2 separate regions of the Homo sapiens genome follow, and region 2 is linked to region 1. The links come from fine-mapping of genetic effects on gene expression. A gene starts in region 1. The other region holds a variant in brackets. All regions are shown on one strand. Distances are from middle to middle.

Evidence for each region.
Region 2: its variant is fine-mapped to the expression of ARL4C in monocytes (TOPMed, PIP 0.98).

Annotation. Positions count from the first base shown.
Region 1 is chr2:234,492,721-234,501,838 of GRCh38, forward strand. It overlaps ARL4C (ARF like GTPase 4C), which reads right to left and starts at 4,361. Exons shown (of 2, transcript NM_001282431.2): 1 at 3,292-4,361; 2 at 321-3,116. The coding sequence starts at 3,866. The coding sequence ends at 3,086. RefSeq lists silencers at 3,939-4,038, 4,149-4,438 and an enhancer at 4,623-5,396.
Region 2 is chr2:234,421,729-234,430,846 of GRCh38, forward strand. No RefSeq gene overlaps it. Among named protein-coding and RNA genes, the nearest start is that of LINC01891, 28 kb to the right of the region's middle. RefSeq lists enhancers at 5,729-6,928, 6,578-7,149. The variant G/A (reference allele first, on the strand shown) is at 5,100.

The sequences.
Region 1 (9,118 bases):
ATGAGAGTGCTGAGGAAGGGCTAGACATTGAGGCCATTTTCCTAAAGGATTTGAAATGACGCAGTGGAAGGCACCCAGATGAAGGACAGGCGCAAGTGAACGAGCCTCAAATGCATACAGACTCCTGCATTTTAGCATCCGGATCCACCATTCACGGCAGAGCTAGACCCTGACACCAAAAATTGAGATGACTGATATACCGACTAGAACTCCAGACACCATCTTGTGATCCATCCCCCCACTCAGCAGAGGCCTAGAGAATGAATACCAGCAATGTCAAAAAAACAAACAAAAAATTCCACAGAAAATCTCCCCAGTCATTTGATTGTATAAATAATTTATTTCTGTTCACAGCATCATATATGCATTATAAAAGGCTATGGAAACAAAAGAGAAGGATGATGAGACAGAGAATTACAGCAGTAGAAAGGAAAACAGAAACCAGGGCACACAGTTCCAACACCAGAACAGAGAATTTGGGAAGATAATTGCTCTGAAACAGAACTGGCCTCCCTGTGTCTATTAGAAAACATTTCCAAAGCTCACGGAGGGAGGCCAACTTCCCCTATGGGAAACCCATTCACTCGCCAAAGGGCAGAAGGCATCATAAATCACCCATTGATACATTGGTGGGGGGCTCCCTGTCCCCCTGGTGACCACTCCAAGGTGATTTGATCTGTGCTTCCTCTGTTGGGTCAGAGACGAAACGGGCTATTATTAGGTCAAACATTACAGAAATCAACTGAGACTCTTAACTAGTAGTTGATACACCACAGGGCTTTACTTTACTGCACAATTACTAACAGTTGATTGCACCCTTAAGTATTGATTATGCAAAAAACAAAATCATCTCGCATCAGTTTTAAAGCATGACAGGGTTTGAACAGTGATCTTGAACCTAAGTATTGTTATCATGAGAAGGTTACAGTATTTGGCATCTGCAATGTCACAAAATAAATATATTATTCTCTCAATAGTGTGGAACTACCAAAATGTCAAAGTGCTTAAGAAATTGTCGCATGTGAAGAAAATAAAGAAAGATGGATTTTTTTTTTAATAATTCTATACAGAATCTTCAGATGATGGGACCAGCCCATTTAGAAATCAGTGGATATGCTGTCGATATGTAAACTGAAATCTTGCAGGCTTTTCAACACTGCTTAGCTAGACTTTCTCTACTGAGTTTCTACAAAAAGACCAGCATTGGAGGGGTACCAAATACACCGACAAAAGAGAAAAAGCAGATGGGCTGCTAGGTTTCTGCTTTTAAAAAATTTCATATAAGAATTGGGTTTCAAGCAGGAAGCCAGAACTTCTGCCTCTGGTTCTTAAATTAACATTCGGTGTGTAATGGACAATAGGCAGGGACTCATAATTTGACTAACTCACATGCTCAAGCATGATCGTGTCCAATTTCTACAGGCCTCCTTTGTAAAGAAATGTGTAACAATGGGGGGAAAGTCATAATTCTACCTGAAAACATGGATTGTAAGAGGAAATAAAAAAATCAAACAGTATGTTTTAAGTTTCCCTTTTGATACTGTGTTTCAGGGTAAGTGACAGCTTCTGCAAACCAAGACTCAGTCCTGATTATAAAGGATTTTTAAAATTACATTATTAAAAATATGTATTTATTCTTCTTTCACTTTATCTATTTTCCAAAGCCTCTTTCAAGTAAACTGTGAAGTGCCTGAGTACCAGTGACCATGACGTCACACTTTCTTTTATCTCAAGCACTCATTGTTGTTTGCATTTGCCCAAAGTGCTGGCTGGCTCCGAAGGCCAGTTCCCACAAGAATGAATTCGGAAAGACTTCATCCTTGTGTTTTTCCTTCTCTTTTAATTCCATGCAACGAGGTCAGCTTTTGCAACAAGGTGGGGTTTTATTTTTTTGGTGCATGACATCAAATACTCTAACGAGACATTTTTAATGAAAGACTTAAACCAGATAGGCCACAATGAACCAAATTAGAAATCTGAACATGTCACCACTTGCAGCATAAAGGAATATAAAAGGGCAGAGCAAAGTCTTTTTTCCTAAGGTGAATATTTCTAAGGTAAGTATTCATTTGTAAAAGTTTTTTTTTTTCATCATGTCTGAAAACCCATTATCACGCGGTTAGTATTACAAGAGACATCCCTTGGTTAAAAAAAAAAATACCATCTTGCAATTCAGCACACACCTGCAGCTGGTGTGCTCATCCAAACCAATCAGTAGGCTAAGAGAATTTAAAATTCCATACATATGAGTCTAGGTATTAATGCCGATTACACAGTACACAGTACAGAGGGAGGTCCCTATATCCACACACACACACACCCCATCCAGCATTTACACCAAAAGCCTTACCCTTTAAACACCTTTAACTATCCTGCAAACAGTAAATGCATCATTGGCCACCACCTCCAATAGTTCGTCTTTTTTTTTTTTTATTTTTTTTATTTTTATTGGTCTCTTTGTGTGATAATGACCTACACATGGACAGGGTCCAAACCATCTGGAAGATGTCTGATTCCAGGCTGAAAAGCAGTTCTCAACAAAACTGGTCTTCTGCAGCCACCACAAAGCACCAGGAAAAGGGCACCTCCGCGGCCATCCCCAGCCAGGCCAGCACAGCGCTCCGTGCCCGCTGAACCGTCCCAGGCAGTCCTCTGATGACCCAAACCACCACCACCTTTGGGCCCAGAGCAGGACAAATGAAATTTCAACAGGGGCCTGCCCTGTGACCGAAAATTACTCAGCTTCACAGCCCCTGAATGCAAGGAGAGGTGGTCCCCCCAGAACCAACATGCCCCCCAAGGTGGGTACGCCCACGGTTCTGGGAAATGCATACCTCAGGTAATTCACAGGTGCGATCCCCCAGTGGAGGCGGGGCAGCCTGAACTTCTGGCCCTGCAGGAGTGGGAAGAAATCGCTTTTGTCTTTCCGACAACTGAGCCTTCCACCTGGGGCTGGGAGGGCGGACAGCAGGACCGGCTCTTCCACTCCCCACCGCGGCCCCCCGACCTGGTCAGTAGCTCTGGCGTTCAGACAAAAGGTCCCCTGAGCTGGGGGTGGGGGGCAGGTCGAGAGTAGGCCGGTAAATCAGACTTCGCAGCTCCTTAAGTCACCAGTCCTGCATTTGGGTGCAGAGATTCCGTTTTAAAAATTCGAAGCATCGCTTTGGTTCGCTCTTTGTTCGCGGGCGCGGGTTCTCGCTCATCCATCCATCCATCCATCCAACCATCCATCCATCCATTCATTCTTTCTTGACGCACTCGCTCGCTCCCCGGTCGCTCCGGGCGCATTACCGCTTCTTCTTCTGCTTGAGGGACTTCCTGCGTTTCAGGATCATCTCATAGAGCTTGTCCATGCCCTCGGTGAGGCCCTCGCCGATGATGGCGCACGCCGGCTGGACGTGATAGGTGGTGGCCGGGATAAGCTCGTGCAGCGCCAGCTGCTTCTCAATCTCTGCCACCGGCAGCGACTTGGGCAGGTCCTGCTTGTTGGCGATGACCAGCAGCGGCGTGCCCTGGTTCTCGGCGAACTTGGTCACCTTGTGCAGCTCCGTCTTGGCCTCCTCCAGCCGGTCCACGTCCACCGAGTCCACCACGTAGATGATGCCGTCCGTGCAGCGGCTGTAGGACTTCCACAGCGGCCGCAGCTTCTCCTGGCCGCCCACGTCCCAGAAGTGGCAGCTGATGCCCTTGGCCGTGCCGTTGCTCAGCTTGATCTTCTCGGTGTTGAAGCCGATGGTGGGCACCGTGTTCACGAACTCGTTGAACTTGAGCCGGTAGAGCACCGTGGTCTTGCCGGCCGAGTCCAAGCCCAACATGACGATATGCAGGGACTGGAAGGCCGAGATGTTAGAGGAGATGTTGCCCATGGCTCCTGGCTGCGGCGCCAGCCACTGCGGCTGCGGCGGGAGGGCGCCGCCCCCCGAGCAGTCACGGGCCCGACGCGGCCGGGCGCACCTGGGCCCCGCCCGCCGCCGCCCGCACCGGCCCCGGGGCTCGGCGTCCCCGCGGGCGCACGGCTTGGCGCGCTCAGACGCCGCAGTCCCCGCGCCCTCGCCGGCCGGGCTCGCGATCGGCGGGCATCGCGTCTCTACGCGCGGCTTTGTCTCCCGCGAAGCCGCCTCAGATGTTCGGCGCCCTCCCCAGGCCTGGGCTCGCTCTGTGGTTTCCTCGGGCCGCGCCCCCGCGCTCCGGCAGCTGCCCGGGCTCTCCGCTCTCCCGGCGCCCGGCGCTCGCCTCTGGCCTGGGACGGCGCTGCTCCTGCTCCTGCTCCCGCTCCCGCTCCCGGAGCGCGGGCTTCCCCGGGAGTCGCTGTCCGCTCGGCAGCCTCACAGTCCCCGCGCCGCCGCAGCAGCCGCCAGCCTGCAGCGGCCGGAGAGCTCCCGGACCCGCCCCCTCGCGCCCCGCCCCGGACCCGCCCCCGGACCCGCCCCGGGCCCCGCCCCGCCCGCCGCCGGGGGTCAGGCGCGGTCCTCCCCGCCCAGCCGGCCGTTTTCGCGCGCTTCGCTGCGTCCCCGCCGCCCCCCGCCGCCCCCCGGCCCCTCCCGCGCCGCGCCGCGCAGACACAATGGGCGCGGAGCCGGCTCTTCCTCCCCAGCGGCTGACGCGTTTGCAAAAATAGCTCTCGGCTCCCGGAATCCCCGCCCGGGTCCTAGCCCGCCCCCTGCCCCTCCGGGCCGCAGCCGTGGGCGACGCAGCCTGCCTGAGGGAGTGGGTCCCGGGGTCCCAGCTCTGTGGGCGCGAGGCGGGGCAGGGCGGCCCCCAGGGTGACTGGGAGAGCGCCGCTCTGGGGAGTGAGGGCGGCGAGGCTGGGGCCTCCAAACCCCAGAAGGGACGGGACGGGGCTGGCCTCGGTGAGCTGCCAGCCTGCGCTCTGGATCCAGCCGGGCGCGTCCCCTCCCACCCTCGCGCCGCGGCTGTCGCCGGCCCCGGCCCCCAGTGACGCCCAGGCTCGCCTCCTGCCTGGGTTCCAGGGGGCTGCACCCGGCCAGCGCCGCCCTCCGGAGCCCAGGCCTGTGCCCAGGGCACCCTGGAGGCCCAGCCTTTCTTGCCCGGTGGCGGCGGTTGGGGCAGGGTCGGACCTAGGCCGCGATGGGGGATTAGAAGACCTACCTGCCCCAAGTAGCTCGGACAGCTCACCCTCCCAGACACGCCTGGGCTACCTCATTTCGTCCGCATCGACTCTGCTGACATCCCAGGGGAAGCGTCAGCATTTCGGGAGAGCACCCCTTGCCACCCGACTTTGGGAACTGAGAACCACCTGCCCGCAGGTGAACTACTCCGCAGAAATGGCAACACCAGCCCCGGGGGCTGAAAGAAAATGTGTCTACAGCTTGGAGCTGGTGGCGCAGTGGGTTACAAACACTGATATTCCACGGGTTCCACCTCCTGTCACCTCAGTTCAATGGTTTTATTCTGGTTTGTAAACATGTAACAAATGTATATCCTCTCTGGGTGCGGAGAAAAGTGAGAGTATATTATGGCAAACACACAGATCTGGGGAGAGCTGCTCCGCAGGAGACAGCAGGCCGCAGCATGGGCGACCGCATCTTCCCAGCTCTAGCTTATGAGACAGAAACGACGGAAACGGGGTCAAGGGAGAAGAAAATGAAAATGCTAAGAATTTATGAATAAAAGCTAGAATTTTAGAGAAATACTTTATCACCTTCTGTTCACAAACCACGAAAAGACATATGATATCGTTGGTACCAAAGCATGTGAGAAGACCTCACCTGTAGAAGGAAGGACAAGCCACCACCACCCCTATCCTTGGAATTCCCAAGGTGGCAGCCGGAGCGACCATCCACTCTACTGAGTGGATTTGGGGCTGGAAACGAAGTATCAGGCTGGAAAGGACCCTGCCTATCATTCCACCCAACGTTGTCCAGTGAGGTAACAAGGCCTAGGCGCCCGTGACGGCTAAGGCAGAACCTAGAGGCCCACTGCCTGCTCCAGGACCAAGGGTCTGTATGCACAAAACTGGGCACCTGCCTGCCCTCTTCCTCACATCCCACTCTACCCACACGCTATTTCCTTCAATGAGGAATAAAGTGAGCCACCCGAAGGATAGAGTTCAACAGAAAATATTGGCTGCACTGTGCCACTTACTTCATTTTAAATAAAAATGGAAATGTATTCACTGACATCACTGAAAAGTTAAGGATAAAGGTCCTCTTCAGGCATGGCTAGACCCAGGAGCTCAAAAGGAGTCTTTCGAGCAGGTGTCTCTCCAGTCCTCCTCCGTGTTCCCCTGTGTTGATTCTTTTTCCTTCTGGCAGCCTTGGACTCACATCCTTGGTTTAGATCCTGGAAAGGAAAAGGTACAACTCTTTCCCAGTAACTCTAACCAAAGCCTGGAGCACGCACCCTGGATCAAGGACTGCAGTCCAGGAGGAGGGAACACACCAGTGGATGTGGCCCAGGGGTTGAAATCGGGAAGGGTGGTTCTCCAAGAAGAATCCAGGATCTGTCACCAAAAGAGCAACTCTAGTGAGGCAACAGAAACAACATATGTTGGCATAATTCATAATGATGATGTTTCCGTTATTGGGAACCCTGGGGAGACAGGATTTTGTGTTTTTGGAGTGATTTTCTTGACTCTCTTTAATGCCTGCCCCATAGATAGCCAGCTTCTCATGAGACTGTTTCTTGTTTCTCTTTCTTCTCTGCCACAGGCAGGGCCGAGGCTGAGCCCCAACCCAAGATGAGCCTTTGGTTTAGTAGCCTGGGACCTGGACATTTGGAAAGAGACAGATCAGACTGGAAGCCTCTCCATCCGGCTTCCACAGATTACCTTTGTGTTACTTCCTTTTCCCCTAGTCAAGACTTGCTTTAAGTTTTAAGGTGGTAGGAAGGAGATATTTTAGTAAAGTATCCGATGTATCTTTTTGGTGCTATGCTAATTATTACCAAGAGCCTCAGTGGTTTTGACTGCAGCCTCCACATTTTGCACCACCATGATGGGGTTTAGCAATAAAGGGCTGTCTGCTGTCCAGTAGGAAAAAACAGATTAATAGACATTAATAGAGCCTTCCAGAACACAGCCATTAAACAGCAACTCACCATAATTGAATAGCAACCACTCTACCTGCTAATTTCACTCACCAGGTGATAAGTTAATTTTACAGTTGATAATTTAACTTCTAACACATAAAAATATCATTTGGTTGAGTCGACTGGTAACTTTCCTTCAAATGTGGATTTTTATTGAAAAACACTGGAATTATGAAAAGGAAGGTAATGTTTACCACTCATATCAGACATGTAAGGCCTACTTTGAGCCTATTTCTTCATGGACATACATCATGGCTAAATTCCACTGAGTGGAAAATATTGGCTGCACTGTGGCACTTACTTCATTTTAATTAATCAGAAGGAGAGATTTTTTCAAAGAATAGCATGTACTTGTGTCTGCCTGAGATGAATTCCTCTTCCAGCAGCAGTGACATTTCAGGTCCTCTCCTTTCTATTCTTCATCAAGATGACTGCATCCAGAGAAGAACTCAATTATTTCAAGCAAACAGAAGGCAATAACTTGGCAGTAATTTTGAAATTGCATCCTAAAATATTCTCTTTTTTTTCCCTTTAAGGGCTTTGAAATAAAATGTGCCACCAATTAAAATGACTTTTGAGTGAATCCGATGAGCAATATATCATGGCATTATTATCTTTGCTTGAGTAAGGCTAATAACCTAAAATGCAAAAGGGAGCATCCCATTTATTCTTGAATATGATGAGTAAATAAAGACCAGAACATGGGCACACGTGTACACACATACACACACGCGCGTGCGCGCATAAGTGTGGGGTTATTTGCATGTTCTCACTGCAGACCTGCTGTGGAACTCTGGGTTCAGGTTCACTGCCCCGGTGCTTAACTGTTATAATACAGGAGTGCCCTCTGCTGAGCTTCTCGGATAATAGATGAAGGGCTCTACAGAGGCACATTGGCCTAGTGCTTAGCAAATGTTCAGTCCATAGTTATGGAATGAATGATGGATAAGTGACCCCCTGCTTTTCTTCTCTCTATGGAGATGCAGGAATAGAGCCCTACTGGTTAAACTGAGAAAGTGCCAGGGGCCCATGGGTGCTTTGCTTGGGGCTCAGAGCTCAGAGCCATTGATGCCAGTGTGGGTCTTGTCTGTGAGACCTGTGGGTTATCTGCTGGGAGAGGGGAGCCAGGAACCTGGCAGAGCAGGAAGTCGCTTTACTAGGAGAACTGTTCAAAGAATCACAATTGGTGGAAGAGATCAGAAAAGAGCATCCAGGAAACCCAGCTGAGACCAGAGAAGGGAAGAAAACTGATTTTTGCATCTAATTCGCAGGCAGGCATGAGCAGCTGTAAATGGAGAATGGGGCTGGGAGTCGAGAATGAAGGAGGCCAGTTGGCAGACAAAGTGACAAGGCCTGAAGCTCCTGAAGCCAGGTGGTCCAGGATTGAAGCCTTTTATCTGTCAGGAGAGGTTCCTTAAGGAAGAACCAAACCAATACTTCCAGAAGCCCCAGGGCATGCTAGACAAACCAGTCACCATCACTGCAGTGCAACCCCCTCAACTCCAGGAGAAACGCCGACTCAGGCTACGTAACAGTGGAAGCCACTAAGACACTGGTGCCAAGGGAAGTTTTGTGGATGGGACGGTAGATCTGGGGGGAGATAAATGAAAATCTGTGATGCCTGCAAGCTCCTGCTTCATTCAAGTGGTCCAAAGCCTGAAAATAAAAAAGATCCACTACTCTATTGGCCATTCAAGTTTATAATTCTAAGGAAAAAAAAATCAGGGTGCCTTATTTTTTATTTTGCTAAGCAACAGGGCTGAAACAATTCAGGTTTTTATTTTCCCAATGATCACCACTGCTAGTGTTTTGTATGGTTGTTGTTGTTGCTGTTTTCTCCAAGAAAAAAAATTTAAATCAAAAAGCTAAAAGGCTCCCCCGCTTCAAGTCTTCCTTAATAATTGTCGATCTCTATTACATTCCTGAGATAGATATAAAATTTTAGAAGCCATTATCTGGGCTGGGCATGGTGGCTCACATCTGTAATCTCAGCACTTTGGAAGGCTAAGGTGGGAGGGTCATCTGAGGTCAGGAGTTTGAGACCAGCCTGACCAACATGGTGAAACCC
Region 2 (9,118 bases), 71 kb before region 1:
GGGGATTGCCAAGTCATTTTTTTTTTTTTGAGATGGAATCTCACTCTGTCGCCCAGGCTGGAGTGCAGTGGTGTGATCTCCGTGCTCACTGCACCCTCTGCCTCCCAGGTTCAAGGGATTCTCCTGCCTCAACCTCCTGAGTAGCTGGGATTACAGGTGAGCGCCACCACACCTGGCTAATTTTTGTATTTTTAGTAGAGACAGGGTTTCACCATGTTGGTCAGGCTGGTCTCGAACTCCTGACCCCGTGATCCACCTGCCTCAGCCTCCCAAAGTGCTGGGGTTACAGGCATGAGCCACCGCACCCGGCGAGTACCAACTCATCTAAATGGAAGTGTGCTCAGATAGCAAGCAGGAGACATGGACTTCTGTGGCTTCCCATGATAACTGGGTTATGAGGACCAACTTTAAGCCTATATGTCAATCAGTTTATATGAGGTTGGACTGATTTCTACTGTGTGCAGCCTCTACAGGAGCATTTATACTGGTTTCCTTTTTTTTTTTCTTTCTACCTGTAGATATCTTTAAGATAAACAAGCTGAACACCATTAACTATGGTAACCTCTGCCATGCTGTCTCTGTTCCTTGAGATCAGATAGAGCCCGGACAGCAAAGAAGCACGTGGCCCTGATATTAAGATACAAGCATGCCAACAGCTTGCATTAGTATTTGTGGAATGGATGAGTGAGTCATGATATATTTCCCCAAGCTTCAGCTGGGTGTGTTTTTCATGTAACCATTACTCATAAAGTGTAAAGGTCAATTATGTTAGGAAGGAAGGAATGATTTTTGTCATCCATGCATAGGACACTCAGGTATGCTTCCCTGAGCTTCATGGAGCATGGTTCCCTGAGCTCACTCCTGCAAAGGCCACGCCTATTCATGAATGTTGACATTAACCAGAAGGTAGGGACTGTATATGTGAATTGAGCTTAAATCTGAGCTGAGGAATTCTATGACAAGTAACTTCAAACACGTCACTGAGTTTGAGTTTACCATAATGCATAAGACTATTTCTAAAACTTGTAATTGCTTCTGTTTATTTACAGAGTTTGATGCATATTTGAGCATTTATTTACTTATTCAAAATTCAAAAAGTTCCAAGAAGTATAAAAATGGCTGAACAGTGGCAAGAATTTTAGAAACCATAGAAAAAAACCCGACATTATTAGGGAACAAAACAAATAGACTAGGAGATAAAAATGAAGTTTTGTGTTGCAGAAGCTGGCAGGGATCCCCAGTGAGAGAAAAGAGGTATCAGGATGAGGAGAATGATAACCACAGCCTCATCACATAGGAGAGCGGCTGCTTCCGTCAACAGGGTGTGTGCTCACAGCTTCAGGTCTGCACCGCACAGCATGATGCTGAGACAGGAGGTCAGCACGTCACATAATTACAACTATATTCTTGTAGATGGCAGGATAATGGCATCCCCCCACCCTGCCCCCAAAAGATGTCCATGTCCTAATTTCAGGAACCTATGAATGTGTTATATGACATGGTAAAGAATTAAGTTTGTAGCTGGAATTAGGGTTGTCAATCAGTTGACCTTAAAATAGGGAAATCACCTGGGTTATGCAGGTGTACCATCACTAGGGCCCTTAAATGCGGAAGGAGGCAGAAGAGACAGGTGGGCGGGCGCGGTGACTCACACCTGTAATCCCAGCACTTTGGGAGGCTGAGGTGGAGGATTGTTTGAGTCCAGCAGTTTGAGACCAGCCTGGGCAAGATAGTAAGACTTTGACTCTACAAAAATAAAAAACTAACCAGGCATGGTGGTGCATGTCTGGGGTCCCAGCTACTCAGAAGGCCGAAGTAGGAGGATCACTTGGGCCCAGGGGGGTTGAGGTTGCAGTGAGCCATGCCACAATTTTGTCTGCACTGCAGCCTGTAGTGCAGAGCGAGACCCTGTCCCCATCCCCCACCAAAAAATAATAATAATAATAGACAGGTCGATGAGATGTGACAAAATATCAACCCTCTGTTAAGGCCACCAAAAATAAAAAATATTAAAAGGACACACAGCCCTGCCAACACCTTGATTTTAGCTCATGCCAGACTTCTGACCTTCAGAACTCTAAGATAATAAATTTGGTTTGTTTTAAGCACCACATTTGTGGTAATTTGCTACAGCAGCAATAGAAAACTGATACAATTATATTAATAATTTTAAAGACGGCATATTTTGCCAGGTAGAGTGAATCATCATTTTGAATGACTTTGAATCCAGAAGAAAATTTATGTAAGGAAAGGGCTTAATTGAAAACTAAAACATGAAAGTTCTTGGTGGCTGTGAAGGTTTTTCCTAGGACTGGAAATCCCCTGGGCTCCCCTCACACTTTGAAGTCAACCTAATTGGAGGGCCATGCCTCGATCCTTTCGGGAGATAGGTGTCCCTGTTAGAGTCTTCAGGTGTATGTTATACTTCAGGTGTCTGCAATTACCTTACCCAGGCCTATAAGCTCCTTGAGAACAGGGAACGTATTTGTCTAATTTTCAGGACCAAATGCAACATCCAGCCTCTAATTGGGGCTTAATAGGTATTTGTTGAATAAATATTTCCAGTGTCATTGATGCAATATTCTGACAAGTAGAAAGATCAAAGCTGGGAAGACGGGGGCTGGGGTGGAAGGAAAATAAATGACGTTTTGATTTTTTAAAGGAACAAAACTTTAGATAAGGCCAGTTTCAAATCATCTTGGCTTTGTTGTGTTTTCATCTCTCCAGAATTGGACTTCTGTGCTCAATTCAATGAAAACACTCAGAGCACAGATTGGGATCACGGACTTATTTTCAAAGCATGTTCCCACACATATTAACAATTGCTCAAAATTAACTGTAGCATCTGTTTAAAGTTGAATCAAATTGAATTCTCTATTTATAAAAATGGAGTTTACATAAGAGAATGGAAACCATGTACAGACATTTAGCATGACACTTCTGCTTACACCATTTCAACAAATAAAAAGAAATTATTGTTCTGGGAGAAATACACATTCCAAATCTTTGTAAAATGAAACCCTTCAAAATTAGGAAATGGAACAACTCTTTTTTTTTTTTTTTTTGAGACAGTCTTGCTTAGTCATGTTGCTCAGTGCAATGGCGCGATCTCGGCTCACTGCAACCTCTGCCTCCCGGGTTCAAGCGATTCTCCTGCCTCAGCCTCCTGAGTAGCTGGGATTACAGGCACCTGCCATCATGCCCAGCTAATTTTTGTATTTTTGTAGAGATGGGTTTCACCATGTTGGCCAGGCTCATCTTGACCTCAGGTGATCTGCCTGCCTCGGCTTCCCAAAGTGCTGGGATGACAGGCGTGAACCACCGCACCCCACCAGAAATGGAACAACTCTTAATGAGTGACATGAGCTACCAGATAAAGGAACACTATATAAATTTCAGGGTCCAGGGTCCTAGAAGTGCCTGGAGCTGAGCCCCTGCTCCCCAAGTCTGTACACATGCACCCTGGGTGCTCAAGCCACAGGCCCTGTTGTAATGGGAAGAGAGAATTCCCTCTTGCAGGAAAGCGGGCTACAAAGATGAAGGGTGGTGGGTGGCAAGAGAGGCCCGGACACACCCTGGGCCCAAGCCTCACTGGTAATGGTTGGAGGGTGGTGGGAAAAGCCATAGGAGATTCTGGGGGAGGTCACAGGGATGGGGGTGAGAGCGAGCTAAGTGGTAGCCAGTGGCGGGGCCCCTGGTGGTTGGGTTTTATTGGGAATGAGGCCGGGCAGGGAGTGACTATAAGACCCAGCTGGTCGTGGCAGAGGTGGGAAGGGAATTTAGGGAACTTGCTCTCTTGGCTTCATGTCTGGGGACACAGCACGGGTGAGGCTGGTGGGTGGGTTGACCTGCTGGTGGTCCCTTCAGACCCCTGTCCCAGTTAGTCCCTGGGGACCCGTCCCTTTGGACCTGACTCCTTGGGGTTGAGTTTCCCCTTTCACCTGGCCAGGATTTAGCATCTTCTTCTGGAGGAATGAGGAGGTTTGGGTGACCTGCCTCTTCCTCTTTCACCTGGCCAGGCTTTAGCATCTTCATCTGGAGGAACAAGGAGGTTTGGGTGACCTGCCTAGTGCCAGGGCAGGACGACTGCCACCCTGAGTCATGTTCTGCTGGTGTCTTTCAATTAGGCAGGAAAGCTCACTTCACAAGGAGCTTCTGTGTCACTGGAGTTATATGGAAATGAGGACATCAACGCAGCCCTCAGGGGCATGCGGGAAGAAGCAGAGGATGGGCCAGAGAGGGTCCTCCCTACCCTCCTCCCAGGTTTGGCCCTCTAGGCCACTCTACCCACTGCATACAGGGATGGGTGTGGTGCCCAGTTCCTCACCCTCTGGGACATAGAACTCCACCTACCCACAAAACCCACTTCCTCAGAAGCGTTAGGGCTGCCTCGGTGCCCTAACTGCAGGTGTGCAGGGCGGGGCTGAGGAAGAGGCAGTTAGGGCTGAACCCAGCAGGAGGGAAGCAAGCTCGCCCAGCTCTAGGTTTCTTGTGAACCCTCAGGACCTGCCTTTGGAGGCAGGTCCTGAGACTGCTGGAAGAAATGAAAATGATGACGATTACAAAGATGAAGGGAGAGAGTGTTAATGAATCACAGATCTTCCTTCCCCTATCAGGTCACCTTGTGTCAGTTTAACAATGACCACCCCCCCCCCAAAAAAAAAAAGCCACACACACACACACTGAGAAGGGAAACACTTTGTTTTTCTGCACTGTCTGAGCTCCATCAGATAATGGAACTGCTGAGCTCTCTGTTCTGCCACTCCACATTGATGGATTTCATGGCAGAGTAACACTTTGGAAATGAAAGTTTCTCTTCTACTTCCTAAGTGAGGGAGACCCAGAATCCAAGAAAGGATCCTTGGCTCAGGAAATCATCTGCCATCGGTGGCCAGGGGCAGCTGGAGCGTCAACATCTAACCTGTGGGAAGATGTACCCTCTGCAATAGGCCCCTCTGCCCCATCCCCAGAAGTCCCCAAAAGTTTCCAGGAGTGTCAACAGATGGGGGAGGGATCAGCCACTCTCACCCTCTGAACTGTGAGGGTTTCTCTTCCCATTTCTCTAGGAAGCAGTGGCCATGTTGTTGCCCAAAGCAGAT[G/A]TCAAAAGAGAAACTTAGAAGAGGCTTCTGAGACTAGCAACCCTCCCACTCAGGATGGAACCAAATTCAGGGAGCACGTCTCCCCACACAGCTGAAATTAATGCAGAGGTGAACGCCTTCTCCCTCGGAAGCAGAGCAAGAATGATTCTTGATTACACTGAGCCTATGGAACAGCCCCCACTGTTCAAGAGCCAAGATTAGTGTGAAGCACCTCTCAATCATTTAAGATTTGATTGTTTAACATGAGGCTGGGTGGGTTCGTCTCAGTGCTGATGTCAACAATCGACCCCATCGTCCACATGGCTCCCTGGGTTGCACCATGAGCCAGCCACTGCTGCTTCTGGGTGCCAGGCTGTCCGGCAAATCCTCTGACCCCCGTCTCTCCCTTCTAGATTTTTCTGAGCTGCCACTTCCTCTCACCCTCCAGGCAGGCAGAGCCTGAAACCCCCTCTCTCAGAAAGGGTTGCATCAAACTCATTTGATGCACACAAATTCACCGAGGGAGAATCCTTTGACAAGCAGGCTCTGGGGCCCTGGGGCTGGGGCTTGAGAGCCTGGGTCTCTAACACACCCAGCAGTTGCTGATGGCGGGGCCAGAGCTGGAGTGGCCAAGGTTTTAGAGCAGTACTTATGGTGGGTCTCTCTCTAGCTGGGCCATCCTTGAGGCCATCCTCTTCATTTCAGATCAGTTTGCCCCCTCCCCATTTCTCAAAGCTGCTTACTGTTTGCTGGAAGGGAAGGCTGGACTCCTCCACCCCACCTTCCACCCCCACCTTCCTTTCCCCTCCGCCCCACACCCGTTTCTCTGCTCCCTAGTCTGTTTCCTGTACAACTTTAGGACATGGCCTTCATTCATGTTACCTTTCTGTTGTTGTTTTTTTATGAGCTTTAGTTAAGATAACTAATTGCTGCAGACAAAACCAGCTCAAAACAATTTAATCCACACTTTGAGAGAGGGAGAAAGAAATGCACTCTGCAGAGGAATCTGAAGAATGTAGAGAACCATCCAATCAACGACTATTCCAAGCATTTCCCTGAGAATGCAAACTTCCACCCACCTCAAGCCCTCCAGGAACTTGCCATTTTCACCACATCACTATGCAGCGTCACACCAGGAAGTACCCAGAAAACTTCGCACGATCCTCCGGAAGCCTCACCCCTTATCGGTGACCACCCTTCTGCTATATCCAGTCTTTTTCTCAGCATAAGTGTTTTACATACTTGATATCAGAGTGTAATTTAAAATCTATTTCTTGACTTTTTTACTTAATAAGTTTTTAACTGTCACTAAAAATTCCTGAAAAAATGTTGTATAACTCTTTCCGTTATTTACTTAATCATTTCCCTATTGTTGGAGACATAGAATCCAATTTAGGATTTGTTTTGTGGAAGGTTTCTTTGTTGCTGTTTTTTGAGACGGAGTCTCGCTCCGTCACCCAAGCTGGAGTGCAGTGGCGCAATCTCGGCTCACTGCAATCTCTGCCTCCCGGGTTCAAGCGATTCTCCTGCCTCAGCCTCCCAAGTAGCTGGGATTACAGGCGCCCACCACCACTCCCGGCTAATTTTTGTAATTTTAGTACAAACAGGGTTTCGCCATGTTGGCCAGGCTGGTCTTGAACTCCTGAACTCAGGTGATCCGCCCGCCTTGGCCTCCTAAAGTGCTGGGATTACAGGCGTGAGCACCGTGCCTGACCTGTTTTGTGGAACTTTTGAAAGCACAGAGAGGCATGCTCACATCTCATGGACACCACCCGAGTTAGATTAACTTCCTTTCAAACTGGAAGTAGAAGGAGACCATGTTTTCATTTGCCCACTCACTCACTCAGCAAATTTCACAGCATATTCCCCGTGTGCCAGGTATTCAGGGAAAGCCCGTTGTCCGTCTGAAGTCTATTAAGAGGTTAAATAGTCATCAGTCCACTTCAAGCTGGTCGATCGCCTTTGAGCATGGGAGGTAAGAGCTAACTTTGCAGTAAACCGCTCAACACAGAAACCAGCAAGGGCTTCCACATGCAGCCCCGTTCCTGGAGCAACAAATCACAACATCCGTCACTGTAGACTCTGGCCTGACACAGATGGTCCCCACATTCTTGAAGGCAAGGACTAAGAAAGAGTGGGTCAGGGTCCGTTTGGAAATTATTTTCAGGAAGCTGGCCCTCTGAGGCCAAATGGTGGGAGGTGGAGGGGACTAGACTTGGGCGGGAAGAAACATCCTCATCCATCCTCATCCTTATGGAAACCTGTGTCCCAGTTCCCTGTCTGCATCTTCAGGTGCCTCTGGTACAAGTCTATGTGGATGCCTGCCTCAAACTCATCACACAGAAATGCAGCACTCTCGCCCGCTGCACTGTGGCCCCTTCCAAATGTAGCCCCCTTGGAGAGACACGTATCGCCCACTAAGTGGATCCACTGCAGCCTCCACACTATCTGGGTTCCTCTCTCCCTTTCTCCTCCAAGTCAGCAGGTGACAGGCTCGCTTTGCTTGTGCCTTCCAAAGAACAGAGACTCTAGCATGTCTGCCCTTCGATGGGCCGGCTTGGCCTGGCTGTCTCCTGCTTCCTCAATGGTTTCCTGGGAATACCTGCTGGTAGGTGGGGGATGGCCTAATCCCTGCCAGAGACTCCTTGGCCTTTGATCCTGGTGAGCTGTGCTAGTCCACGTGCAAACACAAAGCCTCTGTTCTCTTTTGGAGGCCTTTTGCATAGTCTGACAGCTGAGCTGGAGATCCAGGCAGGCCTGCACTTAGCTGTGCTCTTGCCTCCAAGGACTGTTCCAACGTGGGGCCATGATTCAGCCTCTTTGAGCCTCAGATTCTTCTCTGTACACTGGAGATAAGGATGCCCACCTCACAGGGCTGTTTCAGCGATCAGATCTGTAAAGCACTTAGCGTTATGTGTAGGAAGAACTCAATACATAATATTAATGCTGAGTATAATTACTGTTATTCCTCAGTAGGCTTCCAGGCCTGCCTGCCCTGAGTCCTCTTGGTCTTCCCTGTTTTATCTCCCCAGCTACAGGAGAGAAGTGACTTGCTCTCCATCCCTCCGTCAATGAAGGGGCTAGGCCATGCACTGTGCTTTGGTGCCCACTGTTCTACTTGGTTTACATCAGAGAAGGAAGGATAATATTAGAAATTATATAGATAGGCCGGGCACGATGGCTCACACCTATAATCCCAGCACTTTGGGAGGCCGAGGCGGGCGGATCACCTGAGGTGAGGAGTTCGAGACTAGCCTGATCAACATGGTGAAACCCCATCTCTACAAAAAATACGAAATTAGCTGGGTGTGGTGGCACATGCCTGTAATCCCAGCTACTCAGGAGGCTGAGGCAGGAGAATTGCTGGAACCTGGGAGGTGGAGGCTGCAGTGAGCTGAGTTCATGCCATTGCACTCCAGCCTGGGCAATAGAGTGAGACACTGCCTCAAACAAACAAACAAAAAAAAAGTATATACATGTGGCATAGTAACCTCATTATGAAAACCATAATCTTGGTCATAATCATGCATGAATGTTAGAAAAATATCCAGTAAAATCCCACATTAATCTTTTTTCACTCTGACCATCAGAATTTTCTTGGAAGTTTTCATCACTATTAAGCAGACTCCAAAAATTAAAGTTAATAATGATCTGGATTAAAGATGCAAAATAATTATTGCTTGCATATATGTTGTAGGGGCCAAAGCGAAACCTTTGGCCCTCTGAAGTTTCACTGAAAAATCAACTCGCAAAAGACAGATTAAGGCCGGGCACTGTGGCTCAAACCTGTGATTCTAGCACTTTGAGAGGTTGGGGTGGGCAGATCAGTTGAGGTAAGGAATTCAAGACCAGCTTGGCCAACATGGCAAAACCCTGTCTCTACTAAAAATACAAAAATTAGCTGGACGTGGTGGTGTGTGCCTGTAATCTCAGCTACTCAGGAGGCTGAGGCATGAGAATCCCTTGAACCAGAGAGACAGATTCAGAGGTTGCAGTGAGCCGAGAGCAGGCCAGCGCACTCCAGCCTGGGCGACACAGCA